Linked DNA regions of Homo sapiens. The protein of the gene in region 2 purifies or fractionates together with the protein of the main gene of each other region. This does not show direct contact. Each region holds a gene or a part of one and is shown on either strand. Other genes may lie near its edges. The genes, in order: LTN1, LAMP3, GALNT12 and XRCC3.

Region 1 (7,512 bases), on a different chromosome or scaffold from region 2:
TCCTCTTAGGGTTCAACATTTGAACGTCCACTTGCCAGAAAAAAAATTAGAGCCCGATGAAATACAAAAGTATTCAAAACCATTGGAATCAAAACAGCATGGTATTTGTATAAAAACAGACACACACAGACCAATGGAACAGAACTAGAGAACCCAGAAATAAATCCACATATTTGCAGGCAATTGACAAAGTCTTCAACAAAAATGCCAAGAACATATATTGGGGAAAGGACATCCTCTTCAAGAAATTGTGCTAGGAAAACTGAATATTCATATGTAGAAAAGTGAAAACAGACCTCTATCTCTCACCATCTAAAAAGATCAACTCAAAATGGATTAGAGACTTAAACCTAAGAACTGAAACTATATAAAACAACTAGAAAGCATCAAGGAACGCTATAGGACATTGGTCTAGGCAAATATTTTTATGGCTAAGACTTCAAAAGCGAAGGCAACAAAAACAGGCAAATAGGACTATGTTAAACTAAAAGCTTTCTGCACAGCAAAAGAAACAATCAACAAAGTGAAGAGACAATCTGTAGAATGGGAGAAAATATTTGCAAACTATTCATCCAACAAGGGGCTAACATAAGGAATATATAAGGAACTCAAACAACTCAACGGCAAGAAAGGAAAAAAAAATCCCATGCTCAATATTAGTAATCATCAGGGAAATGCAAATCAAAACCCCAGTTAGAATGCCTCTTGTCAAAAAGGTAAGAAATAAGCTGGGAATGGTGGCACTGCTTGTAATCGCAGCACTTTGGGAGGCTGAGGCAAGAGGATTGCTTGAGCCCAGGATAAAGACCTGTCTGGGCAACATAGTAACACCCCATCTCTAAAAAAACAAAGACAAAAAATAACAAATGCTGGCAAGAATGCAGAGAAATAGGAACTTATATACTATTGGTAGGAATGCAAATTAGTACAGCCATTTTGGAAAACGATATGGAAGTATTTCAAAAAACTAAAAATAGAACTATCACACAATCCAGCAATCCCATTGAATATTTAGAAAACCAGTATATCAAAGGTATATCTGCACCCCTATATTTGCTGCAGCACTATTCACAATAGCTGAGATATGAAATCAACCTAAGTGTCCATCAGTGAATGAATGGATATATAAAATGTGGTACATATGCACAATGGAATACTATTCAGCCATTAAAAAAAGAATGAGGCCAGGCACGGTAGCTCACTTCTATAATCCCAGCACTTTGGGAGGCTGAGACGGGCGGATCACGAGGTCAGGAGTTCAAGACCAGCCTGGCCAACATAGTGAAACCCCGTCTCTACCAAAAATACAAAAATTAGCTGGGCATGGTGGTGTGCGCCTGTAGTCCCATCTACTTGGGAGGTTGAGGCAGGAGAATCACTTGAACCTGGGAAGCAGAGGTTGTGGTGAGCCGAGATTGCGCCACTGCACTCAAGCCTGGGCAACAGAGCGAGACTCTGTCTCAAAAAAAAAAAAAAAAAAAAAAGGAATGAAATACTGTCATTTGCAGCAACATGGATGAAACTGGACATCATCATGCTAAATGAAATAAACCATGCACGGAAAGACAAACATCACATGTTCTAATTTGTATATGGGAGCTAAAAAAGTGGATCTCATGAAGATAGAATAGTATAGTAGACTGATGGTTACCCTGAGAAGGGTCAGGGAGAGCAGGGGATGAAGAGAGGTCGGTGAATGGGTACCAAAATACAGTGAGAGAGAAGATATATGACCTAGTATTCAATAACACAGTAGGATGACCATAGTTAACAATGATTTATATTGCAAAATAACTAGAAGATTTGAAATGTTCTCAACACAAAGAAATGATAAATGTTTGAGGTGATGGATATCCTGCTTAGCCTGATTTGATCACTACACATTCTATGTATATATCAAAATATCACATGTACCCCATAAATATGTAAAATTATCAGGTATCAATTTTTTTTTAATCAACAGAAAATTCTGAATCCTTGATAAAACACCAAAGCCTCACCCATTTTCTTTAGGGTATGTGCCACAGGATCTGTTTACATTGATGTCATGACAGCCTGAGTAGCTAACACCAAATTACGATCCACAGTTAACAAGATTATAGCAAGATTCCAATATATTCGTATCTAATTTGCAATTTCACATTCACCACTTAAGTAACTTCAAGGTTCTCATCATTAAAATAGGAAAAAGAAAGCTGAAGATTCTTGAATTAAAGATTTAAACTGCAGTATAATCAAGATTATTTCAAAATTATATTCATTCATGCATTATGTTATATGTAAATACTCATATATACTTACTTATTTTCTCAAGCTCATTATTTTCTAAGACTGTTTCCTTTCTCAGTGCAATTAAGACCATTTTGCTCAATAATGCTGAAGTACACAAATGGCTGGGAAGTGTCTTTATGTCCTGTTCCTTAAAATCTGTTTTGAAACATTCATAATTCAAACTCAATCTTCCCTCTAAAAGAGGTCTATGTAACCACTGTGAAAAGAATACGTTATATACAAAATTATTTATTACCTAAGCAATTGAGACTGAACAAAAATGAAGTTGTGAGAATATTTATTACCAAAACCACAGAAACCTAGAAGTTTGTTTTCTTTTACAGGAAATTATCAACATGTGTATTTCTTTAAGACTCCTTAAGTACAGAACTAGGTCCTAAGTCTTTGTACCATGCCCACTGCCACTGTCAAATGGTGTCTTGCAAAAAGCAAACATCCAGTATATGAGCATACAAAGACATCAAAGCAAAGCAAAATACTCATTTTATTTATGTTTTTCTTCCCCAAAATAAAAATATTCAAGCTTGCATGAAATCCAAACTTCAGAATGAGATATGTACTCTTCAATTTCCAAAATACCTGCATAGGAAGAGACTGCCTCATCTTTTCCCATTCACTGTCGTTCGGCATTACACTTCCAATATAAACTCCCATAAGATAAGAATCTTCACTCTCTAGAAGTGTATTTAGCAAATCATCAACAGCAGACAAGAGGACTTGGAGACTAAAAATAATGCAGAGAACTTAACTGTTGTAGTTACGCTATGACTAGTTTGAATACCCCAATACATATTAAATACCCTATAATAGCTCACCTGAACAAAAAGAAATGATGAAAATAAAAAGAGGTAAGTGACATTCCCCCACCGATGACACACCAACATAACAGTCAAACTGGGGAGGTAATCCAATATTTATCATTTGAAATCTAGTGTTGCTTCCTATCTATCTCAGAATGAAGAGGACCTGACCTATTTCAGACCAGGTATTTCAGAAATACAGCTACCTTATGAAATGCAGCACTATTTTACCTAAACCCAATATCCTCTAAATGCATTCTCTCTTCTCCTTTATTATATGGATTTAGGTATGAGAGGTAAAATATACTTGCAATTCAACATCTTAAAACACTGCCTACCTGTCCCCAAAAAATAAATAACCAAGAACAATCAGTACATGTGGTGACCATGAGAGGCTACAATGCACACCAGCCTATGACAAAGGATAGTATCACCATCACTTTACTGTCTATAAGTTATGAGTCCAGCAGGTATGTTATAGCAAATTATCCTTCAATTAACTGGCAGTTTAAATGGATGGTCATTGAAACAAAATGGTTTTGGAAAAATTCGTTTGGGTCTTTTCATAAGAGTCCTGTAGATTTGTTACCTAACAAGTCACTTTTCATTTCTCTTTTTTTTAAGAGATGGCATCTCACTATGTTGCTCAGGCTGGTCTCAAACTCCTGGAGGTCTCAACTGATCCTCCCACCTCAGCCTACTGAGTAGCTGGGATTATAGGGACGAGCCCTACAAGTCATTTTTCATAGGCACTCACACTGATCATGGAATCTAATTTAAGGACACTGTTCAAGTATAAAAGAGACACTGAAACCAAGCTCAAAAAAGGTTACCTGTTGATATCCAAAGATGAAGCCTGAACTTGGTTCTTCAGCCACAGAGCAGACAAATGTAGGAAGGTACTCTCTTTATATGAACTGTCAGTTTGATGAACCAATAAATTTACACCAGAGAGCCAAGTATTTTTCAGTTTACAGATAAGAAAATCTAAAATCAAGATGTCAACAGGAATTTGTAATCTCACTGAATTAACTCTCATCAGCACAAAATGTTTGAAACAACTCTACAGATCTGAGATTTTTTTAAATACCATTTAAAAAAGAAAAATTTTAAATTGCCATTCAAAATTCAATTGCCAAACAAAGCAACTGTGTCATAAACATGCAATCATACAAGCTAGCACGTATCATATAAATGTAAAATGGTAAGATTTTTAAAGTTACATTTTTTATGCTTGAACTTATTTACAAGAGTTGTCCTTTTGGAGACATTTTTAAAAAAATTATTACACCATTTCCAAATACAGAAGTTAGTATTTAAGAAAGGGTTGGTAGCCAATGATGGGCAGAAAAAAAAGAGAGAGAGAAAGAGGAAGGAAGAAGGAAAGAAAAAAAGAAAGGAAAGAATGAAGGGTGGGAGGAGGAGAGCTCTCTATAGATAGTATTTTTTTATGTTCCTTTCACAAATAAGTCTGAATTAGCATATAAGGCAAGAATATAGTCCTTAAAAAGATAATTTCAATTCTATTTTGATATACACCAAAGATTGAATGTTTTTACTATAATAAAGGGATATTATTATCCCCCTTTTACAAATGAGGAAACTAAGACATCAAGAAATTAAGGAACATGCCAGAACTACTGAATGGACTAAGATTCCACCTAATCAATTATGGCTCATTCCAAATTTCTTTGAATATCAAGTGAGATCTTTAGAAATAACATCTACGTACATCTTTAACTTGCTTTCTAGAGCTGAAAGTGTTTAAGACTGTAGCCCTTTACTCAAAATGCTTTAAACTTTCAAACACATTATAATTCAATTAATAAAGCCTGGGCACTTACACTCACTATGAAGGTCAGAGCCGGAGATTCCCAACAAAACATTTGAGCAGTAGGCTATTACCTGGCAAATGTGTTTTTTCTTTGCTCTGAGCACATAACTGAAAGAGAGTTAATAATAAATCTTCAGATGATGGCATTAGCAAGCATCCTTTCGCTGAGCTGAAATAGTTATAGGCCACATCACAGATAAAAGACACTGATGAGTCACTGCTTTCAGCTTCTGATAATTTCTTTGTTTTGAATAAAGTTTCATGAAGTCTAACAATGATTCTTTCAACATATACGTCTCCAATCAAGTAATCTGGAGAAAAAAAGGTTCAAACAGACAAAAAATAAAAATATTAACGTGTATTTTTAAATATCTTACTTTGGATTAATAATTCTATGGGTCTTTCCTGGATTTTAAAATGTATTAGACAAAATTTTATCAACAAATCAACACATTCTCTCACACATAAAGGCCCTCAAGTAAAAAAGGCAGTTTTAAATTAAGTAGAAAACAGAAATGGTCTACAGTTAGGGTGAGCAAGTTTGTACACTGAAAACCCTTTAAGTCATGAGTCAACTTTATGAGCTAAAAAAAAAAAACCCTTTAGGATATAGAACTAAAAATATTAAATATCTTCTAAGTCATGGTATGAAGATTAATAAACAATTAGGGTGCTTACAATATTACGATATGTAAATGAGCTGGGCGCAGCGGCTCACGCCTGTAATCCCAGCACTTTGGGAGGCTGAGGCAGACAGATCACCTGAGGTGAGGAGTTCGAGACCAGCCTGGCCAACACAGCGAAACCCCGTCTCTACTAAAAATATAAAATTTAGCCAGGCATGGTGGCATGCACCTGTAGTCCCAACTACTTGGGAAGCTGAGGCACAAGAATCACTTGAACTCAGATGTTGTAAGCCAAGATCACACCACTGCACTCCAGCCTAGACGACAGAGGGAGACTCAGTCTCAAAAAAAAAAAGAAAAAAGAAAAGAAAAGAAAAAAAAAAATTTGAATGAGTAAGTCCTGTTATTTTTAACCAATAACACATAAGCTGAGCCCCATGCAATCCCCCACAAAGGAGAAATGGACTATTCCCCATTAGAAAACAAAAGCCATATTTGTCCTACCATTTTTAACATGTTGGGATAATACCAAGCTTAGAAGAGTCCATCTTTCTGAGAAGTGAGATTCTGAAGATACCCTGGATTCCAAGTCCTCATTACAAAGACAATCTGCCAAGTTGACCAATTTCTCACCAAGGATATCGCCTTTGAGCCAAGGAGTTACTAAAGCATGTTTATCTGAACTAGGACATGCCTAAAACCATAAAATTAAAGCAAAGATTAACAGCAAGATCAAATACTCTCTCTGTCCAAAATATTACTTGTACCATATTACTATCCCTTCGTTATCATGGCTCCAATTCTATCCCCCCTCCTCCTCCTCCTGAAGTTCTAGGAAGACTGGTATCCTCCCTGTTCCCCATTAAGCCTGTATGATGTTCACTTCCACGCTTTGCTGTTACCTTCCCAGCCATAAATATTCCCCCACCCCCCCCTTTTTTTTTTAACTTAAAATCCCATCCATTCTTTGAAAATCAGTACAAATCCCACCTACTTTATGGAGTCTCCCCATCCACTCCAGCCCACAATGATCACTGCTTTTCTCTGAATTTCTAAAGCACTTACTGGATTGTATAATTATTTAAATGTTTCATCTGTGTATATCTTGTCTTTCCAATGAGATTGTAAGTTCCTTGAGAGTAGAGACTGTCTTAAACTTCTTTGATACCTGCTATCAACACTGTAGATATGTTCAATGAATAATGAATAAACTTTGAAGATAGATTTATAAATGCTCTATAAATTTTTGTTCATTAATTTTGCTAAAATTAAAGAACAATTAGTGTATAATAATGGTAAATTACTTCAATATGAACAATGGGATTTATTTCCCCAAATTCTCTGATATAGAGTTACTAGGGCCAGATATCTGACAGCAACTTATTTTCATGAGGTGGGGAAGCAAGAAAAAAAAAAGCTGTAAATCCACCCCTAAAGCATGCTGATCCATGTTCCCAGAGCTTCTTTTGCTTTAAGGGCTGAGAAGTAAGGAATTTGCAACTTGGTTCATTTCAAAGCAATCTGGAAGAAAAAAAAAAATCCAAGTGCAGATTGGGTAGTGCTTGGAAAACTTTATCCTTTTATTTAAAAATTGTAGGTAACCAGAGCTTATATTTTAGTCCAAGCTTTATCACTAACTAGCCTATGACCTTGGACAAATCTTTTAATCAGCGTGGGCCTATCTCCTAATTTGAAAGTTGGAAAGATTAACTTAGAAAATCTCTAAGGTCCTTTTCTGGTTCCAAAACTCAAATCTGTTTTTTAATTGATGGTTTTTTTAAAAGATGACTTTAAGACCAGCCTGACCAACCAACACGGTGAAACCTTGTCTCTACTAAAAATTCAAATATTAGCTGGGCATAGTGGCAGGTGCCTATAATCCCAGCTACTCGGGAGGCTGAGGCAGGAGAATCACTTGAACCCGGGAGGCAGAAGTTGCAGTGAGACGAGATGTTGCAAC
Region 2 (8,037 bases):
CATGACGGGAACACAGGGACGGTATGGGAAGGGAGGGGTGAGGAGGGGAGACCAGCAGGGAGCAGGCCTGGCAGGCCTTGGAGACTACACACTGTCTGCAGAGCTCTGAGGAGCACAGTCAGGGAGTCATTGGAGCCCCACGGCCATGTCCAGGTTCAGGGAATCACAGTTTAGCCCCCAGCATGTTTTCTGGCACCTCTAGGGGCAGCAGAAGCAGCCCCAGCAGGGTGCAGCAGAGAGAGTCAAGGAAATCCTAGAGCAGAAGGGCCACTATCCCTGTGACAGACTGCTGGCTGACTATTCCAAAACCCAGTCTCCCCTTCTTTCTAACAGTACCTCAAGTTTCAGCTGAGCACTTGTTGCCTGGAATAAAGAGTTCTATGTCTAAACCTCCTTTCTAGCTGGGTGGGAGCATATGACTGAGTTTTAGCAAAAGAAGGGAAGTGTTAAGATCATGTGGGCCTTCTGGGAAGGCTGGGTGAAGGCAGCTCAATCACCTGTGTGGACTGCCTTTCTACAGCCCTTCTGTTTTTCCTCCTTTGACCAACCTGCAACTTGTATGTGATGGCTGGAGCTCCAGCCAACATGTGGAACCGTGAGGAGGCCTTGAGGGTAGAAGTCACATACCTATATGTCGGATCCTAATGACGGATCTCCAGTGAAGCACTCCCACACTAGAACTGACCTGAATTTCTCTGGACATGTTTTCACATGAAAGAGTAACAAGCAACTATCTTGTTTAATCTACTGTTATTTTGGCTTGTGTCTTACGTGTAACTGAACCTAAACTTAACTGACGTGAACTTAAATCCCCTCATTTTCTGGAGGAAAAATTTGAGATCAGGGAAGCAAGTTGACTGGGTAAAGATTACTCAGAGAGTTTACCCAAAAGCTCCGTCTCTCCTAGCAAAACTTTCTGATGATTTTTGCTCATTTCCAATTCAACAAGGATTTCTTGAGCCTATGCATGCAGGATCATGTAGCACAGTAGCGTAGAGCCTGAACCCCAAGGCCAGACTTCGTTTTTGTTTTGTTTTGTTTGAGACACAGTCCACTATGTTGTCCAGGCTGGTCTCAAACTCCTGGCCTCAAGCGACCTTCCACCTCAGGATCCCAAAGTGCTGGGATTACAGGTGTGAGTCACTGTGCCCAGCCAAGGCCAGATGTCTTGAATGCCAGTCTCAGGAATGCTACTCACTAACTGGGAGACCATGAACAATTCCTTAACCTGCCTCTGCCTCAGTACCGCCATCTGTAAAATAGGGATAAGAATAGCACCTACTTTTCAGGGTTCTTATGAGACTAAATAAGTTATAGGTAAGTAGATGTATGAGTAAAGCACATAGGTTAGCTGCTATGGGCACAGACTCTGGTTCAAAGCTCGACTCTGTCACCAGCTAGCTATGTGATCAGGGGCAAGTTATTTAACCTCTTTGTGCTTCTATTTCCTCGCAAGTAAAACGGAGACAATAGCAGTACTTACAAAGCTGTTTTGTGGATTAAAGCACTGCGAACAGTGCCTGGCATGCAGAGAGTGCCAGGAAGCCATGTCCATCATTGTTAATTACCATGTGCTGATGAGCCCTGTACTGAGTGAAGAAGGGGCTCAAGGTCAGGTTGTGAGGTGAATGGGAGAGGGACTGGAGGGACAAACAGGAGATACGAGTTAACATCACTGAGCAAAATCACTGCAGTAATTGCTGTCCAGGTGCTACCTCATTTGTTTCCCCAGTACTCCTAGCAGAGGATATTATTCTCCCCATTTTTCAGTGAGGGAACTGAGCACCCGAAAGGTTGGGTGATGTGAACAAGGCCTCCCTGCTGGGAAGGGTCAGGGCAAGGGTTTGAATCCAGTTCCGTGCCACCCCTCAAAGGCCTCCACCTCTGAGGAAGAAACCTCTGATGCATCCTTCACCTAGCTCACCTCTGAGAATTTGTAGCTCAGAAAGGAACCGGTAATGTGGGCATTTTCTCTCCACTTGCCCTTGCATTTGTCAATACTCACTGTATTTTTATTTTTATTTATTTATTTTTTTTGAGACAGAGTCTCACTGTTACCTAGGTTGGAGTGCAGTGGCATGATCTTGGCTTACTGCAACCTCCGCCTCTTGGGTTCAAGTGATTCTCCTGCCTCAGTCTCCCGAGTACCTGGGATTACAGGCGCCCACAACCATGCCCGGCTAATTTCTGTATTTTTAGTAGAGGCGGGGTTTCACCGGTGGCCAGGCTAGTCTCGAACTCCTGACCTCAAGTGATCCGCCGGCCTCAGCCTCCCAAAGTGCTGGGATTGCAGGTGTGAGCCACCACGCCTGGCCTGTCAATACCATTGTGTTTCTGAGCCTATCCATCCATTCAAGGAGCGCTCACATACAGGTCACTGTGGGTTACCGCTAGGCTGAGATTGTTTTGCTTTTTTAATAGCTTGCCCTGTGGAGCGTGATGATGACTTCCTCTTCTGTCCCCTAAAAGAACCTGAAACTGTAAGTGTGAAAGTGTGGCGCAGGGGAGAACTGCCTAGGCAAGGGCAGCTGGCACGACCCTTCTCACCTCTTCCCTAACATTCCTAGCATTCATGTTACAAGCAAGGGCCACCGCGCCCCCTGCTTGAGCATGTTAGCCGGGCGGTAGGGACGGAGACAGTTCTCTCATGACGTTCGAGTAACCAGGAAACTTCATCACAGGGACAACACCACAGCACCCGAGGACTCAATGTCTAGGGGGAAAAGCTCTGGAGAAAGCGGAGGGTCGGATCATAAAATAATCATAAACTCAGCGTCCCAGACGGCATCTGGGATGGGAAGTACAATGATCATTTAAAAAAAAAAAAGTCTTTGACACTCTTCCTACACCTTTCTGAAATGGCACAATCTGTCAGACCACATCTGATGCAAGGAAAAGCAAGACAGGAGCGCTTTTCCCGGATAACAAAGCCAAGACTCCCATTCCTAAACCCTAGCTCAGGTCTCCATCTCTTAAATCCGAGTGACCTCTACAAACTCTCCCTGAGAAGGTGTCCAGAACCCTTTTGGAAGCGAGGGACAGTGTCACTGTCTTTGGGGTTGACACCTGCTCTGAGTAACTCACGGAAAACAAGTTCCAGCTGGGAAGCCCTTGGACGCGCCACACCTCCCTACCCGCAGCCCGTCCTGTGGCGCCCGGGACTCCAGAGTGCGTTTAGATGAAAGGGGACCGACACGTCAGGGCCACCGCGGGAAGCGCTGAGGGCCACTCACCGGCCAGGGACGCGAAGAGCGCGGCCGCCGCGCTGAGCTGCCGGGGCATGGTGGGCGCTGGGCGAGGTTCTGCAGCGTGCGGCGAAGTCCGGGCAGGCCCCGAATCGGTGCCAGAGAAACCTACCTGTGCCGGAGAAACGAAACCACCTGCTTATGAGAAGCAGCCGAAAAGCCCGCCCAGGGCCGCTGGGCGGGGAGGGAAACTCCGCCGGCCCCCTCCTACCCCTACGGAGCAGGGAGGGGCGGGGACTCGGCGCAGCCGCCGGGGCCCGGGCCTCTGGGACCGTTTACCGCACGCGCGTGGTCCCGGCAGCGCCGGCCTCCTCCGCTCATACCCTGGGTCTCCTCCTTTCTTTTTCTTTTCTTTTTGAGACGAAGTCTCGCTCTGTCGCCCAGGGTGGAGTGCAGTGGCGCGATCTCGGCTCACTACAACCTCTGCCTCCCGGGTTCAAGCGATTCTTCTGCCTCAGCCTCCCGAGTAGCTGGGATTACAGGCATGCACCACCACACCCGGCTAATTTTTGTATTTTTAGTAGAGACGGGGTGTCACCATATTGGCCAGGCTGGTCTCGAGCTCCTGACCTCGTGATTCGCCCGCCTCGACCTCCCAAAGTGCTGGGATTATAGACGTGAGCCACCGAGCCCGGCCAGGGTCTCCTCTTTTATTTCTTTTCTTTTTATTTCTTTTGTTTTGTTTTGTTTTGTTTTGTTTTTTGAGACAAAGTCTCGCTCTGTCGCCAGGCTGGAGTGCAGTGGCGGGATCTCGGCTCACTGCCCTGGTTCAAGCGATTCTCCTGCCGCAGCCTCCCGAGTAGCTGGGGTTACAGGCGCCCGCCACCACGCCCAGCTAATTTTTGTATTTTAGTAGAGACGGGGTTTCACCCTGTTGGCCAGGCTGGTCTCGATCTCCTGACCTTGTGATCCGCCCGCCTCGGCCTCCCAAAGTGTTGGGATTACAGGCGTGAGCCACTGCGCCCGGCCCAGGGTCTCCTCTTTTCTAACAGCTCGGGTACCTTTCTGGGAACCCAGAGACGCTTCTCAGCCGGGAGAAAGCCAGCCACTAGGCGAGCAGGAGCCTAAAAACCCCTAAGCACCCTGACTCCATGTCTTCCCAGGGAGTCTGCGGCAGCCGCGCTCCACGCCCAGGCCTCGCCAGGACCGCGGTTTGCGGGAAGCAACAGGAGCACAGCCCAGAGGCGCTAGGTCTGGCTGGGAGCTCGCGCTGCCGACTCCCCGGCGTGCGGCGTCGGGGAACCTCTAGGAGCCTTGGATTCTTCAGCTGTAAAACGGACATAATAATGCCCACTCCCAGTGTGTTTTTTTATTTTCTTTTTTCTTTTTCTTTCTTTGTTTTTGTTTGTTTGTTTTTGTTTTTGTTTTTGAGACAGGGTCTCACTCTGTCGCCCAGGCTGGAGGGCAATGGCGTGATCTCGGCTCACTGCAAACTTGGGTTCAGGCGATTCTCCTGCCTCAGCCTCCACAGTAGCTGGGATTACAGATGTGCGCCACCACGTCCGGCTAATTTTTTGTATTTTTAGTAGAGACCAGGTTTCACCGTGTTGGCCAAGCTGGTCTCAAACTCCTGACCCCAGGTGATCCGCCCGCCTCGGCCTTCCAAAGATCTGGGATTACAAGCGTGAGCCACTGTGCCTGGCCCCAGGTGGTTTTACAGACCAGAAAATCCTGGAACAAAAAACACACAATATCGTTTTTTTTTTTTTTTTGGAGTCAGGGTCTCGCTCTATCACCCAGGCTGGAGTGCAGTGGCGTGATCTCGGCTCACTGCAACTTCGACCTCCTGGCCTCAAGTGAGTCTCCCACCTTAGCCTCCTGAGTAGCTGGGACCAAAGGCGCGTGCCACCACGCCCAGCTATTTTATTTTATTTTATGTAGAGAGGAGGTCTCGCTGTGTTGCCCAGGCTGGTCTCGAGTTCCTGGCCTCAAATGATCCTCCTGCGTTAGCCAACCATTGGGATTACAGGCGTAAGCCACGGCCCACGGCTCAACAACGCTGACAGGCAACCTTTTAATGTCTTATCTCCTTCCTCTATTAATTGGATTGTCTGTCAAAACAACGATGTTTTGACAGGGCTTGAGTCCCAGTGGGGAATACACATTTAAGCAGTATATTAGGAGACCCTCCTTATCACTAGATTGAGGGCTTTCAGCCTAGCCTCAAATTATTTTCTGAAAAATAACTTTGGCTACAACTATTTTGTCTTACTATGTTGCTCCAAACACTAATCAAGTAAACTTAACCAAAGCTTGCAGTGTGTTTCAGAATGGAATTTTTATGGTGAAAAGTGAGGGTTAACTTGTGCCAGTCAACCTAGTTTCAGCAACTACCTGCTTTCTGATCTTTGAGACAGTTTATTCAAAAGACGATAATTAAGTGGGTATAGACTGTGTGCCAGGCACTCTTCTTATTCCATTTAAGCGCCATAGCCACTCTATATGGACACTGTTGTTATTATCGCTGCCCCATTTCGCAGATGGAGAAACTAAGCACAAAGAAGGGAGTTGCCCAGAGTCACTTAGATAATAAATACCGAAACCTGACCATAAATCTTGTCTGCCTTGAGAGTCTAGGATTTTAAGCACATAGCCGGGCGCAGTGGCTCACGCCTGTAATCCCAGCACTTTAGGAGGCCGAGGCGGGCGGATCACGAGGTCAGGAGATGGAGACCATCCTGGCTAACACAGTGAAACCCAGTTCTATTAAAAATATAAAAAAATTAGCCAGGCGTGGTGGCAGGTGCATGTAGTCCCAGCTACTCGGGAGGCTGAGGCAGGAGAATGGTGTGAACCCAGGAGGTGGAGCTTGCAGTGAGCGGAGATCGCGCCACTGCACTCCAGCCCGGGCGACAGAAGGAGACTCCGTCTCAAAAAAAAAAAAATAAATAAAATAAAGCTGCTCCTCTTACCCTGGAAATTCCAAGGGATTTAGGAGCTCTGTTTCAGGAACCAGGGTCAAAGACCAAGTATTAAAACAAAAGATTCTCCTAGAACTCTGGCATATAAGGATTTTAGGAGCTCTGTCTTAGAAACTGGGACAGAGACCAAAGATATATTATTATATCGCAGTATCATAGTTTATTATTTTCAAAAAACGTTTTCTGGCTGGTACAGTGGTTCATGCCTATAATCCAAGCACTTTGGGAGGCCAAGGTGGGAGGGTCACTTGAGGCCAGAAGTTCAAGTCCAGCCTGGGCAACACAGGGAGACCCTGCCACTATTAAAAATTTTTTAAATTAGCTGGGCATGGTGGCACATGCCTGTAGTCCCAGCTACTTGGGAGGCTGAAGCAGGAGGATTGCTTGAGCCTGAGAGGTCAAGACTGTAGTGAGCTGCGATCAAGCGACTGCACTCTAGCCTGGGTGACAAAGCCAGACCCTGTGTCTAAAAAAAAGAAAAGAAGAGGAAAAAAAAAGGTTTTTATTTCAACTAAGTTGTTGGATTTATTAGCATAAAGCTTTTCATAACAATCCCTTGTCTTACAATATCTGTAGTATAGGTAGTGATGTCACTTCTTTTATTACTAATATTAATAATTTGTATTTTCTCTCTTATTTCCCTGCTAATATTAATAATTTGTATTTTCTCTCTTTTTTCCCTGATAAGTTTGGCTGGAGGTTGATCAATTCTATTCATGTTTTCAAGAAAAAAAAAAAAATTTCATTTCATCGAGTTCCTTCATTGTTCTTATGTTTTCTGTTTTATTCATTTCTACCTGATCTTTATTATTTTCTTTCTTCTACTTAACTTGTGTTTTATTTGCTCCTCTTTCAATAGTTTTCAAAGATGGAACTTGCCTGGGATATCCCAGCACTTTAGGAGGCTGAGGTGGGAGGATCACCTGAGGTCAGGAGTTCAAGACCAGCCTGGCCAACATGGTGAAACTCCGTCTCTACTAAAAATACAAAAATTAGCTGGGTGTGGTGGTGGGCACCTGTGATCCCAGCTACTCGGGAGGCTGAGGCAGGAGAATCGCTTGAACCCGGGAGGTGGAGGTTACAGTGAGCTGAGATCACGCCACTGCACTCCAGCCTGGGTGACAGGAGCTAGACTCTGTCTCAAAAAAAAAAAAAGAAAAAAAAAAAGATGGAAGTTGAGGCCAGTGGTATAAAATCTTTCTTCATCTCTAATAAACAGGTTTACTGTTATGAACGTCCCTCTAATTACTACTTTAGTTGGATCCCACAAGTTTAATATGTTTTCATTTTCATATAATTAGAAAGACTTCCTAATTTCCTTTTGCTATCTCCTCGACTCATGGTTATTTAAAATAGCATTATTTCATTTCCAAACATATAGTTTTTCAGATATCTTTCTTTTATTGATTTTTAATTCCACTGTGGTTGAAAACATAATTATGGACTTAAATCTTACAAATTTATTGATATTTGTTTTTTGACCAAGACTATGGTTGGTTACATTAGTTTTCAGGACTGACATAACAAAGTGCCACAGACTGGGTAATTAAACCACAGACATTTGCTTTCTTATAATTCTGGAAACCAGACATGTGAGATCAAAGTGTCAGCCGGGTTGGTTTTTTCTTTTTCCTTTTTTTTTTTTTTTTTTGAGACAGAGTCTCTTTCTGTCACCCAGGCTGGGATGCAGTGGTGTGATCTCGGCTTACTGCAAATTCTGCCTCCCAGGCTCAAGCGATTCTCCTGCCTCAGCCTCCCGAGTAGCTGGGATTACAGGTGCCTCTCACTGCACCTGGCTAATTTTTGTATTTTTAGTAGAGACGGGGTTTCACCATGTTGGCCAGGTTGATCTCAAACTCCTGATCTCAGGT
Region 3 (8,390 bases), on a different chromosome or scaffold from region 2:
ACTTATTTATATTAATATATATTAATACTTACTATGTTACCATGCAAGGAAGGATTCCTAGTCATCATTAGCCTCCTCTTCAATTCAGTGCTGTAACTAACAAAACTATACTCGAATCCACTGGCATGTAAATTATTAGATTCATAGAGGGGCCCAGGTCTATACTGGCTCTCACAGAATTAGGACCAGTACTCTAAAATGTCTTTTTAGTGGTCTGGCCTTCTTCAAGAAGGCAGACACAGTGCCACACCCTGCTGACACCAGGAAGAGTCAAACCAAGTGGTCCCTTAGTCATTCCCAACTCCTTTCCTCTGATAAAAGGCACTGCAGAGTAAAGACTTTCATTAAAAGTCTAGGAGGCACAGCAAAATGTTAACAATGGTTCTCCCTGAGTGGTAGGTTTATTGGGGATTTTCATTTTTTTCCTTTTCTGTTTCTCTGTGCATGCCAACATTTCTAGAGTGAATATGCATTGCTTTCATAATTAAAATAAACATAGAAATAATCATCCCCACCCAAAAAGGGAGGAACGAGTAACAGATATGGACTGTGGCTCTGCCTGAGATGTGCTATGTGACCTGGGGGTGTGGCTTTTCCTCTCTGGTTAGACTAGATGCTCCTCCCTCAGGGCCCTCCCTCCTGCAACATTCAAGGACCCTCATTATCCCTCTGTTTATTAGACTCGCAGAGAACCCCATACCCACACTGTGAACTTATGATCTGCCATTCAGGTTTCTCAGGCAAAATCTCAAGACCCTGATTAGCTCCTGGATGAACTGTAATAAAAGTGAGATGCCACAAAATACCCTGACCCTACTGACCACTCTGAAGTTACATCTCAAAGCCTGGCCCAACAGAGACCCACACAGCTCAGGCTCACCTTTCTCTCTGGCTGGGTAAGAATAACCCAACAGGCCTTGCTGCAGGAATTAGAAGCAGGAGGCATTCACACTCCTTATCATGCTGGGTTTGGCTTAACTTCCAGGGTCAATGCAACAGCAGGATCTACAAGCAAATCCTGAGAGGACACAGGGCAGCTGCGTCACCATGGAGACAGGTTACCATAAGCCCCACAGATTGTCCACAGTGTTTCAAAGAGATATTCACAACCTGCGACAATAAAGGAAGTTGGATCCAGGAAAGAAAAACTACAACCAATCCCTGGATGACTCTCAAAAGCAACCTCTTGAGTACATTCTTGGCAACAGGGAAAGGTGAAAAAACTAAGATTTAAGCACACAGTGTGCTCCCAGGTATTGATGCTTTATTAATTCCTAAGTTGTGTTCTTTCCACTCACTTTTATGTAGAATGCATGGAGACTCACTTTTATGAGTTTCCTATTTCGCAAACGAAGGGAAACCAAGGCTCTGAGAGGCTAAGCAGCTTGCCAGAGATCACAGAAGTGACGAGCAAAAGAACCAGGATTTTATCTCCCCTGGGCTGGATTTAATCTGAAGCTGGGTATAACCTGAAAGCTTCCCCTCCACCTTGCCTCAGCGGGCACCCTCGGGGTTTCGAGGAGCTAAACATGCGTTAGGCTGGTGAGTGGAGGAACTACTATCAATCCCAACAAAGTTTTATTCAAAAAGACTAACAGTGAAAAATGCCTCAGGCAGAAGCATGAGGCTAGGCATGAGGAGATCCCCAAAACAGGGAAGACAGTGGAAACAGTGGGGCAGAGGTGGGGCATCCTCATTCCATCATTCATGGTCTCTCTGGCCAAGGTACCATGGAGCAGGCCCCTAAAATCCTGAGATCAGCATGGTGCCAAGTGGGCCAGAAGGGCCATAGTCCCTCCAGACCAGTCCTACCACATTCCAGCTGAGGGGCCTTGGGTGGGTCACCTATCCTTTCCGAACCTATTTCCACACCTGTAAAGCAGGAATGGCTTGAAGGGGAGAGGAGTGGCAGGTGCCTGGTGCACACGGCAGGCTGCCACCACCAGCTCCAATGGGAACCCCCTCTCTGAGTCCTCTTTTCCTCAAAGTCTGTAAGGAAGGGGCTCAAAAAAGGACTTGGAAGATCCCTGACACTTCGAAGAAAAAGTGAGAGCCCGGGAGGCCCAGCGGCAAAGGTGGCAGCAGCCACCTGTCCTTCCTCCTGCTGCCAGCGTGTGCCCTGGATCCCCACCTAGGCAGGGGCGCAACCTGCCCAGCCAGTAGCTCCAACAGGAACTAGGCCTCTGACCACGCTGGCTCCAGTCCAGCACCACCCACAGGAGTGAGCTGGGGTGGATCACGGCCAGAAGGAGCCCTTCCCACCCCGTGCCCCTTCCCGCCTTCCTCCACCCAAAGCTCAGAAATCCAATGCCCAGGGAGAGCACAAGGAGGCTTTCTAGCGCTGAGGGGGCCTTACAGCCATCTTTCGCTTCACCTGTGGGGCGCTCCCTCGCATCTTGTTTGTCCCTTAGGCCCTGGCACACACAGAGAATGAATGGAGCCGGTCACCGCCCGGAGGAGTTGTCAGTTTCGCGGAGGCACTGCGAGGCGGGCAGAGCGGGGTTGTCCTTTGGGTGCTGGGGGGTCCTCGCCTTAAACCCTTCTGCTTAGCCCTGACCCTCACCTTTTCAGGGAGATGATAACTTCTCAAGGAGAAGGGAGCTAAGAGATCACTAACAGACTTGCCAATTTCTGGTAATTTTTTTTCTACTTTCGTCTTTTTTACTTTCTTGCCTCCCCGCCCCCATGTGAGCTCTTACACTATCGTCTTCGGAGAAAGACTCAATAAGACGCGCCATCCTGGAGACCCCAGCTCCCCGCCCTGCCACTGCTCTGATGGAGAAACTGAGGCCCGGGGCTCTGAGGGCGGGCTTCCTCCCCAGAGCTGTGCACTCACAGCGGGTTCCAGCGCTCGGGCAGGCGGCGGTGCAGTGAGATGCGGTCGCTGAGGTAGATGTTAATCTGGTGCAGCCGCACGCTCTCCTCCTGCAGCCGCAGCTCCTCGCCCTGCAGCTGCAGCCGCACCGCCTCGCCCCGCGCGCCCAGCGCGTTCGCCGGCACCGGCGGCCGCGGCATGACCGGCTCGCGCCGCCCGGGGCGCGGGGTGCGCGGGGGTCCCGGCTCGGCAGCCCCGGCCCCGGCCCCACGCTGCGCCCGCAGCACCGAGCCCAGCCCGGCCAACGCCAGTAGCGCCAGGAGCACCAACAGCGCCTCCCGGCCGCGCCGCAGTTCCCGCGGGCAGCGCCGCCGCGCCGTGCGCCCCCACATGCGCCCGCCAACTGCAGCCAGCGATCTGCGCGCCCCAAGGCGGCGGTGGAGGCCAGGACCCGGATCCCGGAACCGCCGTGCCGCCCCGCCCCCGGCCCGCCCCACCTGCGCGCCGCCCCCTTTCCGTCCAGCCCCGCGCCAGCCCAAGCGCAGCCCCCGGGGTGGCTCATTTCGGCAGGGTCTTCAAGTGGGCTGGCTGAGACTTGCATCTTCCTTCTTGGGCTATGGTGCATTATTAAAGAGATAGTGGTGGTAAAACCCTTAGCGCCTGGCATATTGTAGGCGCTAAGTGTTGGCTGAATACACCCTGCAGGGTGTTATGAATTCTACTGCCATTATCTCATCTGATCTTTACACAGTCCAATAAAACAACCATCAACTAGGATTACGAGCTCCCTTTTACAGATGAGGAGATGGAGGTGCGATGAGATCAACAGACACCACGCTGCCCCACTGACTTCTGCAGGCCCAGCCTCTGCCATACTCTTTGGAGTCCTTGAATAGCAAACCCTCGCCTGGCTCGCCTCGTGATAGCTCTGTGACCTCTGAGGCTAGGAGCAAAAGGCCATGAAGGCTGTACATGATAGTTCACACCTGTAATCCCAGGCCGAGATAGGAGGATCACTTGAAGCCAGGAGCTTAAAACGAGACTGGTCAACATAGCAAGACTCCCATCTCTACAGAAAAATTTCAGAATTAGCCATGCATGGTGGCACGTGCCTATAGTGCCAGCTACTCAGGATGCTGAAGCAGGAGGATTGTGTGAGCCCAGGAATTGGAGGTTACCGTGAACTATGCGCCACTGCGCTGCAGCCTGGATGACAAAGCGAGATCCTGTTTCTATTAAACAACAACCAAAAAAGGCCATGAAGCTGCCGCCCTGTTCATGAGATCACTGCTGTGGGAGCCTTGAGCTGCCAGGGACGAAGTAAGTCTAATGGAGTAGACAAATATTAAAAAGATAATTAGAATTGTGTTAAGTATTTTGAAGAAGAATTACAGGGCGCTAAAAGGGCTTAGAATAGTAGAACTTGATCTAGTTTGGGGGTTTTGGAAAGCTTCTCTGATGAAGTAATGTCTACACAGATATCTGAATGTAAAAGTGATAGCAGAGATTTCAAATCATATCTTAAATTAATCTGGAACTCCCTCTGCTGGTGTCTAGCTCAGGGAAAAGAATCATTCTGTATCCCCTGTAGAAGGATAGAGTGTAAGCTCTATTTGTTGTTGTTTGTTTTACCATGGGAAGTTGGTCCAAAGCTTTTTATCAAATATTCTCAAGGAGACCAGAAGCCCAGAAAGTTTAAAAAGCACAAATCTGGTCCAATTATCTCATTGATAAATGCGGGGTCTGAGACACAGGGTGGGGAGAGGACCTTGAACTTGGCGGCTCAGGTAGAGGTAGAATCTGACTTGCTGTTGTCTTCATACAGCCTTTGGCTACTGGTATCCCCAGAGGAAATCTCCCTCAGGTTGCAGGAGGGGGGTGGGTTTTGGGATGAACCATGCAAAGCAGCTCCCACTCAGGACAACCTGCTGCTAATATTAGACTAGAGGGAAGTGGCTCTTCCCACAGTGCTCAGGGCCCCGCCTGCTTCCCACGCAGAATGGAGGCTGCTGGTTAATGCCAGAAGGCGGTTGTGTTAGGTAGGTCTGGACCTGAGCCCTTTGGCCTCTGTTCAGACACCCAACACATTTAAGATCTGCGGTCAGATTAGAAAACAGACAAGGATTACAATTCATAATGTCTTGGATCCGCTTGCCAAATTGGAATGCTTCTCAATAGAGGTTCAGATACAGAGAAAAGAGAAATGCAATTAGGCCTTACAAGACATGGACTTAAGCCCCAGGTAACAGATAAAAGCTATTGTTTACTGAGCACACACTGTGTGCTGTAAACTGCTGGACTTTCTTTTTCATGTACTTTCTCATTTCACCCTATGACAACCTTGCAAGGTTGACAGATGAGAATATGTAGGCTCAAGAAGTGAAGCAACTTGCCCAAGGTTACACAACATGCAAGCGGTAGAGGGAGGATTTGTATCTGGGTCTCCTGACTCACAGTCCAGGATTTCCCACCACACCACTCACTGTTGGGCAGGCTGCAATGAGATGCAAAGGCAGCTTAGCTTAGGAGGTCGGAACACAACCTTGGAGCCCACTTGCCTGAGCTCAACCCAGCCCCATCACGAATTGCAGTGTGACCTCAGGCAAGTTGCTTTACTTATCTCGGCTCAATTTGCTCATCTATTAAATGGTGATCTAATGATAGCACCACCTGAACAGGGTTGTTGAGAAGATTGAGTGATACAGTCTGCACAGTCAGCCTCCCGGGGCACAAAACAGAGTGGAGAGAGTGTCAGTAAGGCAAAGGGAAGATGTCCAGCACCTTGCTGAGTGAAGTATGATATTTAGACCAGAAGCATTGGTACCACCTGGGAGCTTGTTGGAAATCTAGCATCTTTTCAACAGAGGTAAAGCCCTTGGGTTTATTGCTATTTTTAGGGGGCTTATCTGTTCACTAACAGTACCATGTTATGTCATCGGCTGCTCACCAACAAGTAGATATCTCTAGAAGATGCTTTTAATTTGTCATATTAGCTCTCTTCATAGGAGTTATTACATTCCTTTTAGAGTTTAATATGATCTATGGTAGATGTGGTATTTCAAATATTAGTGGGGAACATGTGCCTAATTCAAGTAATAATTGGGACAACTTGATAACCATTTGGAAAAAATTCAAATCAAGTCCCAACATCACACTTTACATCAAAATAAATTCCAAATGATCTGAAGATGCCACAGTAAATAAGCAAAAAAAGGAAGGAAGGAAGGAAGGGAAGGGAAGGAATTTAATTATAAAAGTATTGAATGAGAAAAACCAGAGACCATATGGAAAATATTTCTAAATGTGACTATATAAAAATTTTGAATTCTGTAAGGCTTCCAGTATAATACAAAGTCCAGAAACAAAAGGCAAGTCAGAAAGAGATATTTGCAGATGACATTTACCCAGTATGTGAATCAATAGGGAAATAAAGAGAACAAACAGAAATAAAAATGGTCAAAGGATTTAAATAGACAGTTCCCACCCAAAAGGATATAAATAGTTTATAAAAGTATGAAAATATGCTCGATCTCTCTAAAATACATACAAAATAAACCTACCCTGAAATATTTTTTCACCTATCAGACTGGCAAAAATGAAAATGGCTATTAATTCCAGTGTTGGCAAGGATGTGAAAAAACACTCTCATCCACTGTTGGTAGGAATGCAAACTAGTATAACCTTTTGGAAAGCAATTAGGCAACATTTATTAGAAATGTTAATATTAACATCTTTTTGATTTTGCAATTCCACATCTAGGAATCTATCCAACAAACATAGACTCGTAAGTGCTCAAAAGATATGCATACAAGGAAGCTTATGGCAGTATTGTATATAAAAGCAAAAAGTTGGAAACAATCCAAATTTCCATCAAGAGATTATAAAATAAAATATTGCACATCCGTACAATACCATAATATACCACAGTGCTATTTGCAAGCATGAGTTAGTTGTAGGCATTTAACATACACATGTGTTCAAGATGCATTGTAAAGAAAAGAGAAGCAAGTCGTGGAGCTATATGAATAGTATGATCCTATTTTTGTAAAATAATATATATTAACATATGAAAGGGGAAAAAATCTAAAGGAATATTTACCAAACCATTAACTATATTATATTTACTTCTGATGGGTGAGATTCTGTGGTCCTTTCACTTTTGTTCCATTTATTTGTTTTTTTTTCAACAAATATTTATTGATCACCTACCATCTGGGAGTCAGTGTGCTAGATTCTGGGGATTTGAGGTAAACAATATCCAAAGCCATTGATCTCAAGGAGTTTACATTCTATATTTCTACAACATCAGAATTCTTTAAAACAATCGTTACCTTATTAGGAAAAAAAAGACATTTAAAGTAAATATTGTACTCTTTCGAGATTATTTTACTTCTAAGCCTTCCTTATCTCCTGCCTAATCCACTCTGTCAGTCTGTGGTCCTCCTGTCCCCCTGCTCTCTCCTTCCAATATGTTTCCTCCTTTTTCCTACAACGACCTAGACCCCACCCATCATTTCTGCCCAACTTGTAGCCAAGCTCTGCCATGAAGCTGTCAGTGGCATCCTCCAAACTGTGACATCTTCCTTTGAATTGACGATGAAAACTCATAGACCCCACTGTTCTGCAGTCATGTGGGATTTCCTGGGAGCCATGAGGCCATGTTTCTATCATTCAACACACATAATGCCTAGCACACAGAAGGTATTTAGTAAATGCTGGCTGAGCCTGGTACCGTGGCACACACCTATAGTCCCAGCTACTCAGGAGGCTGAGGCAGAAAGATCACTGGAGCCCAGGAATTTGAAGCTGCAGTGCACCACGATGGTGTCTGTGAATAGCCTCTACACTCCAGCCTGGGCAATAAAGCAAGATACCATGCCTAAAAAATTCAAAATTAAGAAAAAATTTTAATTTAAAAAAGTTGGTTGAAAGGAATTGTGTTGGAAATGAGGTGCATTGCTCAGATTACCCTTTGGGAGAAACTTTTAGGGGAAACACGGTTGACTGCCAGCTCCCAGTGGCTATGCCTTTGGATCCTTTGTGGTATCCTCTGGCTACTCCCAGTCAGTGACCGAGCATGGTGTGGTACCAGAACCTGGCCACATCTGCATGATATAGGACACAACCCGTGCTTGGGAATCCCCCATCTGCCTGGCTGAGACTTTCCCTCGTCACTTCCCATTCTCCTTTCTCAAGTATCAGACCTGCATCATGGTCTGAGGGCTCCCCATCCCTTTTCCCCGACTTTCCCCTTTCCCTCTTTTTTTTTTTTTTTTTTTTGAGACGGAGTCTCACTCTGTCGCCCAGGCTGGAGTGCAGAGGTGTGATCTCTGCTCACTGCAACCTCCGCCTCCCAGGTTCCAGCGATTCTCATGCCTCAGCCTACCAAGTAGCTGGGATTAAAGGCACGCACCACCACACCTGGCTAATTTTTTTGGTATTGTAGTATAGATGGGGTTTCACCATGTTGGCCAGGCTGGTCTCAAACTCCTGACCTCAAGTGGTCCACCCATCTCGGCCTCCCAAAATGCTGGGATTACACACTTTCCCTCTTTGTCCTTTGTAGGTATTTTTC
Region 4 (7,512 bases), on a different chromosome or scaffold from region 2:
TTCCCGGTGCTCCTGCCAGCGTCCCGCTGCTTGACACAGTCCAAGTTTTGTATCCAGACCCAGCCTGGGACAGCAGCCTCCCGACAGCCCCCAGGCCCAGCCTGTCTGTGACAGTCACGCCTGCTCAGGGAACCATCCCTCCGTGCAGATCTGGGCTGTGTTTTGGGTGGTACCTCGGGTGTGGGGTCCCCTACCAGGTGCGAGGTTCATACTCCCCAGGCTGCCTCCTGTCCTCAGGGCTTGGAGAGTCCCATGTTCTGAAAATGACCTCTTTTCGAGCCGGGCAAGGCCGCATCTCCTTTGGCAGTGTAGTGTCTTCCCTGGAGGTGGCATTCCTTTTTGATTTGCCTTCTGTGCTTGGGAACCTCACTTCCTCACTCTGGCCAGCTCTGCCAGCAGTTTGGAGCTGGTTCAGCGCCCCACCGCCCTGCCTTGGCCTGCGCCCGGCCCTCCAGGGTGGCTTCTCGCCAGTTCCTGTCAGGCCTGCCTGGGCAACCAGGCCTGGGCACCTCCCTGTCCCTTGCTCAGAAAACCCACAGGCTGTGGGGGCCCGGGAGCCAAGCCTGGTGCGCGGGCAGGAAACGCATCCTGGAGCACCAGCTTCCCTGCCCTGCCCGCCTCACGGGGTGCCTGGGGGCGTGCCTCAGCCTGCTGCTCCTGTAGTCTGTTCCTGTCTCCCTGAGCAGGCTGAACATGGGCATACGAGTGACCAGCGTGATCGTGTCCAGGCCAGTGCCGCATTCTGTGTGGTCCAAGGGAAAACCTTCTCCAAGTCCACGGCCCGCCCTTTCCTCTGCTGGGTTACGGCCAAGGGCGCCAGGCCTCACTGGAGGACATGGATCCTGGACCCGGCCCTCGAGGCTGCTGCCTTCCAGTTTCCCCATGTCCTGGACACTCTTGGTCTCACCATTTGGGAGGCCGACAGGGGATGCAGAGTGGCCTGTTGGAAAGGCCTTATGTGACCCCAGGCTGAGTCCCTGAGCAGCCTGCTGAGGCCGGAGGGGAGAAGAGCTGAGCTTCTCCCTTGCTGGGCCAGGCTCGGGCTGTGGAATGGCTGCCAGCTCCCTTCCTGGGAGAGGCTGGGTGGGGTCCACAGCACCTTCCTCCCGTCCCACAGGAAGCTGTCTTCTGCTGTTGGCTGCTGGGGGCGACTGATGTTTGGATCCCTGAGCACCCTGCCAATCCCAGACTCACCTTCCCACTCTTTCCAGAGTCCCCAGGGAGACACTTAAGGGAAATTAAACTGCAGAGTGCAAGAGATGCCTCAGTCAAGTCAGCCAAAAACACGCGGGTCATCCCCAAGCCCCAGAGAGGTGAGTCGGGCAGGGCACTCAACTGCTGCAGGAGGATGGTCTTATTTCTAGCACTTTCCACAGGAGGTAAATGTGGTGGGTTTGGGGGGTTTTTCAAATGCATCAGTGTCTGGAATGGGTTCTAAGCTGCTAAATAATTCTTAGAGGTAAATGACAGACATGTTGCCCTAGATGTAGCTAGACAGCCTTCCCTCTACAGTGAAGTCTCCTCCACCCTCAGTGACAGAGCCCCGATGACACGGACACCTCGGCTGCTGTCACTTCCCTGGTTCGGGCCTCCCACAGGCTTTGAATTGAAGGCGAGTGCCTCAGAATTTGCATCCATTGTTCTGTCTTTCCTGGGAAGTTATTCATCCTGGTGGCCAGCCCACCGACAAAATGGATTTGGATCTACTGGACCTGAATCCCAGAATTATTGCTGCAATTAAGAAAGGTACATTTATTTCTATTTACATAAAGGGTGTGGGTGGGTGTGTGCAGTTTATATAAGGCAGGTTAACAAAACGCTGGCTGGCTAAGCCTTCCTTCCTTTGCCTACCCTGATTATTAAACCGAGGGCGGGATGTACTATGGGATTTTCAGGTGTGTGTGTGTGTGTGTGTGTGTGTGTGTTCTTAACTACATGGATTTCTTTCAGTTACTTTTATTTTTATCAAAGTAATACATGCATATTGTCTAAAAGGTAAAATGGAGCCACATAAAGTCTTTTAGTTTTTTTTTTTTGGAGACGGGGTCTCGCTCTGTCACCCAGGCTTGAGTGCAGTGGTGCGATCTCAGCTCAGTGCAAGCTCCGCCTCCCGGGGTTCACACCATTCTCCTGCCTCAGCCTCCCGAGTAGCTGGGACTACAGGCGCCAGTCACCACGCCCGGCTAATTTTTTTGTAAATTTAGTAGAGACAGGGTTTCACTGTTTTAGCCAGGATGGTCTTGATCTCCTGACCTCGTGATCCGCCCGCCTCAGCCTCCCAAAGTGCTGGGATTACAGGCATGAGCCACCGCACCCGGCCGTCTTTTAGTTATTTTTTTAAAAAATATTTACATCTGGGCTCCTAAACGTGTTTATGTTGTAATGTTTGATTTGTCAGTGTTACTGATTATCCATGGACTTCTCTTGGGGGCTGTGAGGACTGAGCGTGCCTACACCTGTGTACCCCAACTTCCTCTCCCCCCAGCTCCCTGCCCATACTTAGAACCTAGTTTGGGTGACATCAGCTGTCAGGGTTGTGACTGGGTGCATACTGGCCATTGTTGAACCTGGTGTGGTGGTGCAGGGGATGGTTTTCTTTCTTACAGCATCTTTTTTCGCCCGAGTTAGTAAATGCTCAAAACTCAGGCCCCACGTGCAGCCCCTGCCCCCTGCTCCCCATGCCAGCCGCCTGGCTGTCATCCGGGGACCCTCCTGCCAGCTTCCATCCTCCCCCGTCTCCCCGGGCCTCAGCTACGTGAACCTCAGCACGCTGTCTGTGGCGAGAAGCCGGAGTGCTCATGGAGCTGCCGCAGCAGCCTGGTGACAGGGCAGGGCCTCGCTGTCCTGACCCTCCATCCTTGGCTGTTGGTTTTTATCCTCCTGTTGGTGGCCTTGTGATCACAGCTGCTGCCACAGCTGCAGACACGACGCTTGCAGACCAGGGACAGAGAAGGGCTCAGCCAGGGAGTTCCTTTCTCACCTGTGTCTCTTATCCAAAAACCAATGTTTCCAGAAGTCCCTGCAGACTTCACGGCTGTGAAGGGGGCTGGGGCTGTGAGGCTTACCAGGGGGAGCGCCCTGCCACAGCCCCGATCCCGGTGAGTCCTCAGGGCCCACAGAGCCTTCTGGAGCAGCCTGTCTGCGGGAAGCCCCCTCCGCTGGATCTGGTGAAACCCAGGGGCGCTTTCTTCATTCCCACCCTTCCATCTCCTTGTGTTTTCTGTGTGGCTTTTCTGAAGATCACACCAGTGCTTACTGTTTTCCAGCCGCACAATGGTTGTCTTTTCACTGCAGCGTTCAGCGCACCCGTGTTGAGGGGGTTTCTGATGTGGTGGGTGTAAGTCCCCGTGGCCGGGTGGGGCGCTTCGTCCACCACTGCTCCCTCTCGTGTGCGCTTCCTCGCACTTCCCTGATCGGCTGATCAGTCTGCAGCATTTGTCGTCTTTCTACAAGTTTGAAATTAGAAAGTGATGCACTTATCTGAGTCCAAAATTAACTTCCTTGCCCTCCTCCCCAGATGGCAGGTCCTGGGGATCTGCACCCCTGTAACTGCTGCCACCGCCGTTCTGATTCGCACATGCTCTGCCCCCTGCCCTGACTGCCCTGCGCAGCTGGCGTTTGGACCTGGGCTCTGCTACCCTCCCAGCGCTCCCCTCCCCAGGGCACATGTCCTCTCCCGCGGCTCAGCCCAGATCCATGCCTGGTGGGCGGGTGGTGGAAAGCTCGGTGCTGGTTTTTTCCTGCCCCCTTCTGGAGCACTGTCTCCAGCTGGCATGGAACTGGGTGCCTGTCGTTTCTTCTCAGTACCGGAACCTGCTCTCAGCACCGGGACCTGCCCAGCCCTGTCTTCTGGCTTCTGCCCCAGCTCACGAGGCTGGTATCTGTCCGAGTGCCAGGACTCAGGGCGCAGTGTCCAGCAGCCCTTTCCTCGTGCCTGTGCATCGGCCACACTGTGTCCAGGGTTTCCAGGGAGCAGGGGATCCGGTCCCTACCCACCTTGTCCCCAGAATCGGAAGCACGGTGCTCTCACAGTGCTCTTAACAAAGCACCTTTTGTCACTGTGTTGCCCTGCGTTGTGACAGTCTGACATTTTCCTGTAATTTATCTGTGTTATTTCAGCCAAACTGAAATCGGTAAAGGAGGTTTTACACTTTTCTGGACCAGACTTGAAGAGACTGACCAACCTCTCCAGCCCCGAGGTCTGGCACTTGCTGAGAACGGCCTCCTTACACTTGCGGGGAAGCAGCATCCTTACAGGTAGGTGGGCCCTGGCATCTCTGCCAGGGGTGACATGTGGCTCCAGCATCATGGTCCCAGTGGTGCAGGGCAGGGGCTGTGCAGACTTCACCCAGGGACCAGCCTCAGGGCGTGTGGCAGCTGCTCCAGCCCCAGAGTTCCCATCTTGCTTGTCCTACACCCATGGGGCTGTGGTCACAGCATCGGGTCAGAAGATGCGTGAGGTGGACACGGGCTGTGGGACCTCCTGGGGACCTTGCTCCATGGACCAGAGGAGGGGGTGCAGGAAGCAGGGGTGGATTTGGCAGTCAGCACCCAGAGCCCTTCAGGCTCTGGCAGGGTGGGAACGGTGTGAGATGGGGCCCTGGCCACGGTCCCACCACCACGTGTGGGAAACCAGGTCTCAGCAGGGGAAGGAGGTACCCAGGGAACCCCATGCGCCTGGACGGACAAGGTTTCCATCCCTGCATCTCAGCAGGCCCTAGTAGGCAGCGGGGTCCTGGCATGAGCAGGGCCCTCTCTCCCCTGCAGGTGGCTCAGTGGCCCAGGCCCCGAGGAACGTGCTGAACTTGGGGCTGCCGTGGTGGGCAGGTGCCACGGCCACACACACGGTGCTGTGGGCAGGGCTCTGGGCAGGCCTCACAGTCAGGGTGGCCTGCTCCACCTGGACGGGGTGCCCAAGGCAGTGTGCAGACTCCAAGGGAGGGGCTGCTCCTCCCGGCCCAGGCCCCAGGCCAAGAGCGCAGCCTGCACCGCATGTCCCACCTTGAGCCTTGCCCTGAGGGGCTTCGGTGTCGTGGAGGAGGCTGTGTCAAATGGCTCATCCAAGGCCCTTTAGCCAAGAGGCTGAGACCAGCATTGCTCCAGAATGGTATCTGTCACAGAGAACTGACGGCATGTGGTGTGCATGTGTGCGCGCCTGCGGGAGCCCATTAAAGCCGCTTGAGAACTGTTCAGCACCCCAGGGCATCCCAGCTGGACAGAGCTGTGCCTTTTTCTTCACATGGAGGCTGTTAGGGAGCGCCTCGGGGCTCTCTGGAAGCTTTGGCTGAAGGCGTCTGGTGCTGCAATTGCCCCATAGGGGGATCCCTGCGGGCATGTGATGGTGGCCCTGGGGCTCCCCCTGACTCTGCATCTCAGGTGCACCCGCCCTTCCCGGCTGGGCCCCCCTCCCTGCCCTCAGCACCTTGCTCACCCCCATGACCGCAGGCACCTGTGCTCCAGCCACACTGCACCTGGCACAGGCAGGCTGACCATGCCTCCCGCAGTCCCCAGCCCTGCCCGCAGGCCCAGGAGAGTCAGGCCTGACACTATCCCTGCCCTTTAGCACTGCAGCTGCACCAGCAGAAGGAGCGGTTCCCCACGCAGCACCAGCGCCTGAGCCTGGGCTGCCCGGTGCTGGACGCGCTGCTCCGCGGTGGCCTGCCCCTGGACGGCATCACTGAGCTGGCCGGACGCAGCTCGGCAGGGAAGACCCAGCTGGCGCTGCAGCTCTGCCTGGCTGTGCAGTTCCCGCGGCAGCACGGAGGCCTGGAGGCTGGTGAGTGGCCACCCCTTCCGTGGGGTCTGGGCAGGTGGGCGGCCCCTGCTTTGTGTGGGACAGCTTTCCGTTGAGGTGGGGCAGTGGCCGCCTCTTGCGCTGTTCCTACCATTGCGTCTCCCTCCTTCTCACCCTGATTGCCCTCGCTCCTTCCAGAACAGGGAGGGGGAAGTGAGGCTGGGCTCAGCTGACAGCAGGAGGGGTGGGAGGGTACGAACCCCACCACCAGGCAGCCGGCCCTCAGCAGAGCTAGGCCCCCAGGGGTCGCTGGCTGAGCACAGCGATGCCGGCCCACGTTCCGCACAGCTGCCAAGCCCAGAGTCCACAGAGCCAGCAACGCAGGGAGGGCAGCACAGCCTTTCCCCGGGTGCCCCGCCGCCAGGCCAGGTATGCTCCTGGCGCGGCCCCGTGAGCCTGTACGCTCTGTCTGTGAAACGAGGGTTCCCTGCATTGGACTAAAGCGTTCAGAGCATGCCTGCCTGGGTCTCTCAGGTGTTAAAAGTTCACGTAGTTTTAAACTGTGAGCTGTGAGGAGGAGAGATGTTTCTCAGTAGCTCCTTAACTTTTAAACTAATTCCCTGGTGTCAACATGCGATTCCCACGTTGTCTTAAACTCCACGTGAACAGAGTGGCAGTATTTTTTCATCGGTGGCACCTCCGAGCACATCTGCTAGGCTCACTTCCCACACAGGGCCGGACCCCAGGCCCTGGACCCACAGGCCCAGCCAGCCACCTCCTCACGGGCCTGACCTGCCAGCAGCGGTGTGGCTGGGAACCTCACCTCTGCCACCCTCAGGTCAGCGTCATCCCCAGGACCCAGGGTGTGCTGTGCCTGCCTGAGCTTCAGTGCTGGGTGGAGGGTGAGGGGTCTCCTGAGCCTCCGTGTCGGGTGGAGGGTGAGGGGTCTCCTGAGAGCCCAGCTGGGGTCTGCTCACGCCACAGGCATTTTTGTCCCTGCAGCCCAGGGGAGGGCACCCTCTTGTCAGGTGCCTGAGTCCCTGCGGCTGGTCTTGGGGATGAGCCTGGAGACAGCCAGAAGCCGGGAGGACAGGAGTTGGCCTTGAAAATGGGAGTCTCCCGCTTACCGCACGGAAGAGCTGCTGTGAGGTGGAGGCGGGACTCGAGCGTGCTCAGGAACGGGACGGGAGCCGCCCTCATTCTCCAGCGTCCTCCGTGCCAGGCTTCGTGCAAATCTGATTTGTGCAATGACTCCCCCTCAGCTTCCACCCCGTTGGCCTTTTCAGTGAAGCCCACACTCCCCGATACCCAGGGACACAGAAGCCTTAGGACACCCTCCCTGAATCCCCCAGCTGTGCCCAGCCCAGTGACTGCTGCGGGATGACAGCACAGTCCAGCCTTGCGGGCCAGGGGAAGGGAGGGGGCCCCACGGCCACCGTGACCACATGCAAGGTTAGGGGTCAGATGTGCTTTCCTGGGGAAATGACTTCCTTTCCTGGATCCAATCTAAAGGCCCGAATTTTGAAAAGAAAGCGGCAGGCGGGCTCTGAAGTGATTCCGACTCCCGTGCTTAAGCCGCGTGAGGCTCTCCCAGGCCTGCTGGGGCCCCGCCCACCGCTGGGCTGTCCACAGCCACCCTCCTGCCAGCTTCACGATGTCCCCATGACTGTGCAGCCCCTACATAACGTCACCCCAACAAAAACACGCTGCTTGACCGGTTCCACCTGCTTCCGAGCCTTCCAGCCCAGCCTCTCTCCAGCCAACAGGACGGAGGAAGC

Evidence for each region.
Region 1: the proteins of LAMP3 (region 2) and LTN1 purify together in Homo sapiens (affinity purification with mass spectrometry; 2 studies listed by BioGRID and IntAct, with this or other methods). This does not show direct contact.
Region 3: the proteins of LAMP3 (region 2) and GALNT12 purify together in Homo sapiens (affinity purification with mass spectrometry; 2 studies listed by BioGRID and IntAct, with this or other methods). This does not show direct contact.
Region 4: the proteins of LAMP3 (region 2) and XRCC3 purify together in Homo sapiens (affinity purification with mass spectrometry; 2 studies listed by BioGRID and IntAct, with this or other methods). This does not show direct contact.

What each region holds. Positions count from the first base shown.
Region 1 is NC_000021.9:28,954,461-28,961,972, forward strand, and holds part of LTN1 (E3 ubiquitin-protein ligase listerin), read right to left. Parts: exon of another isoform or gene 6,618-7,512; intron 6,247-6,617; coding exon 6,057-6,246; intron 5,238-6,056; coding exon 4,998-5,237; intron 4,080-4,997; coding exon 3,926-4,079; intron 3,017-3,925; coding exon 2,872-3,016; intron 2,489-2,871; coding exon 2,302-2,488; intron 1-2,301.
Region 2 is NC_000003.12:183,159,374-183,167,410, forward strand, and holds the start of LAMP3 (lysosome-associated membrane glycoprotein 3 precursor), read right to left. Parts: upstream 3,362-8,037; 5' UTR 3,283-3,361; coding exon 3,234-3,282; intron 1-3,233. UniProt on the Homo sapiens protein: Lysosomal membrane glycoprotein which plays a role in the unfolded protein response (UPR) that contributes to protein degradation and cell survival during proteasomal dysfunction.
Region 3 is NC_000009.12:98,802,516-98,810,905, reverse strand, and holds the start of GALNT12 (polypeptide N-acetylgalactosaminyltransferase 12), read right to left. Parts: upstream 3,237-8,390; 5' UTR 3,208-3,236; coding exon 2,837-3,207; exon of another isoform or gene 2,700-2,836; intron 1,842-2,699; exon of another isoform or gene 947-1,841; coding exon of another isoform or gene 881-946; intron 81-880; exon of another isoform or gene 69-80; coding exon of another isoform or gene 33-68; intron 1-32. UniProt on the Homo sapiens protein: Catalyzes the initial reaction in O-linked oligosaccharide biosynthesis, the transfer of an N-acetyl-D-galactosamine residue to a serine or threonine residue on the protein receptor.
Region 4 is NC_000014.9:103,705,267-103,712,778, reverse strand, and holds part of XRCC3 (DNA repair protein XRCC3), read left to right. Parts: intron 1-1,117; exon of another isoform or gene 1,118-1,211; 5' UTR 1,212-1,313; intron 1,314-1,533; 5' UTR 1,534-1,691; coding exon 1,692-1,746; intron 1,747-4,119; coding exon 4,120-4,257; intron 4,258-5,563; coding exon 5,564-5,776; intron 5,777-7,512. UniProt on the Homo sapiens protein: Involved in the homologous recombination repair (HRR) pathway of double-stranded DNA, thought to repair chromosomal fragmentation, translocations and deletions. Part of the RAD51 paralog protein complex CX3 which acts in the BRCA1-BRCA2-dependent HR pathway.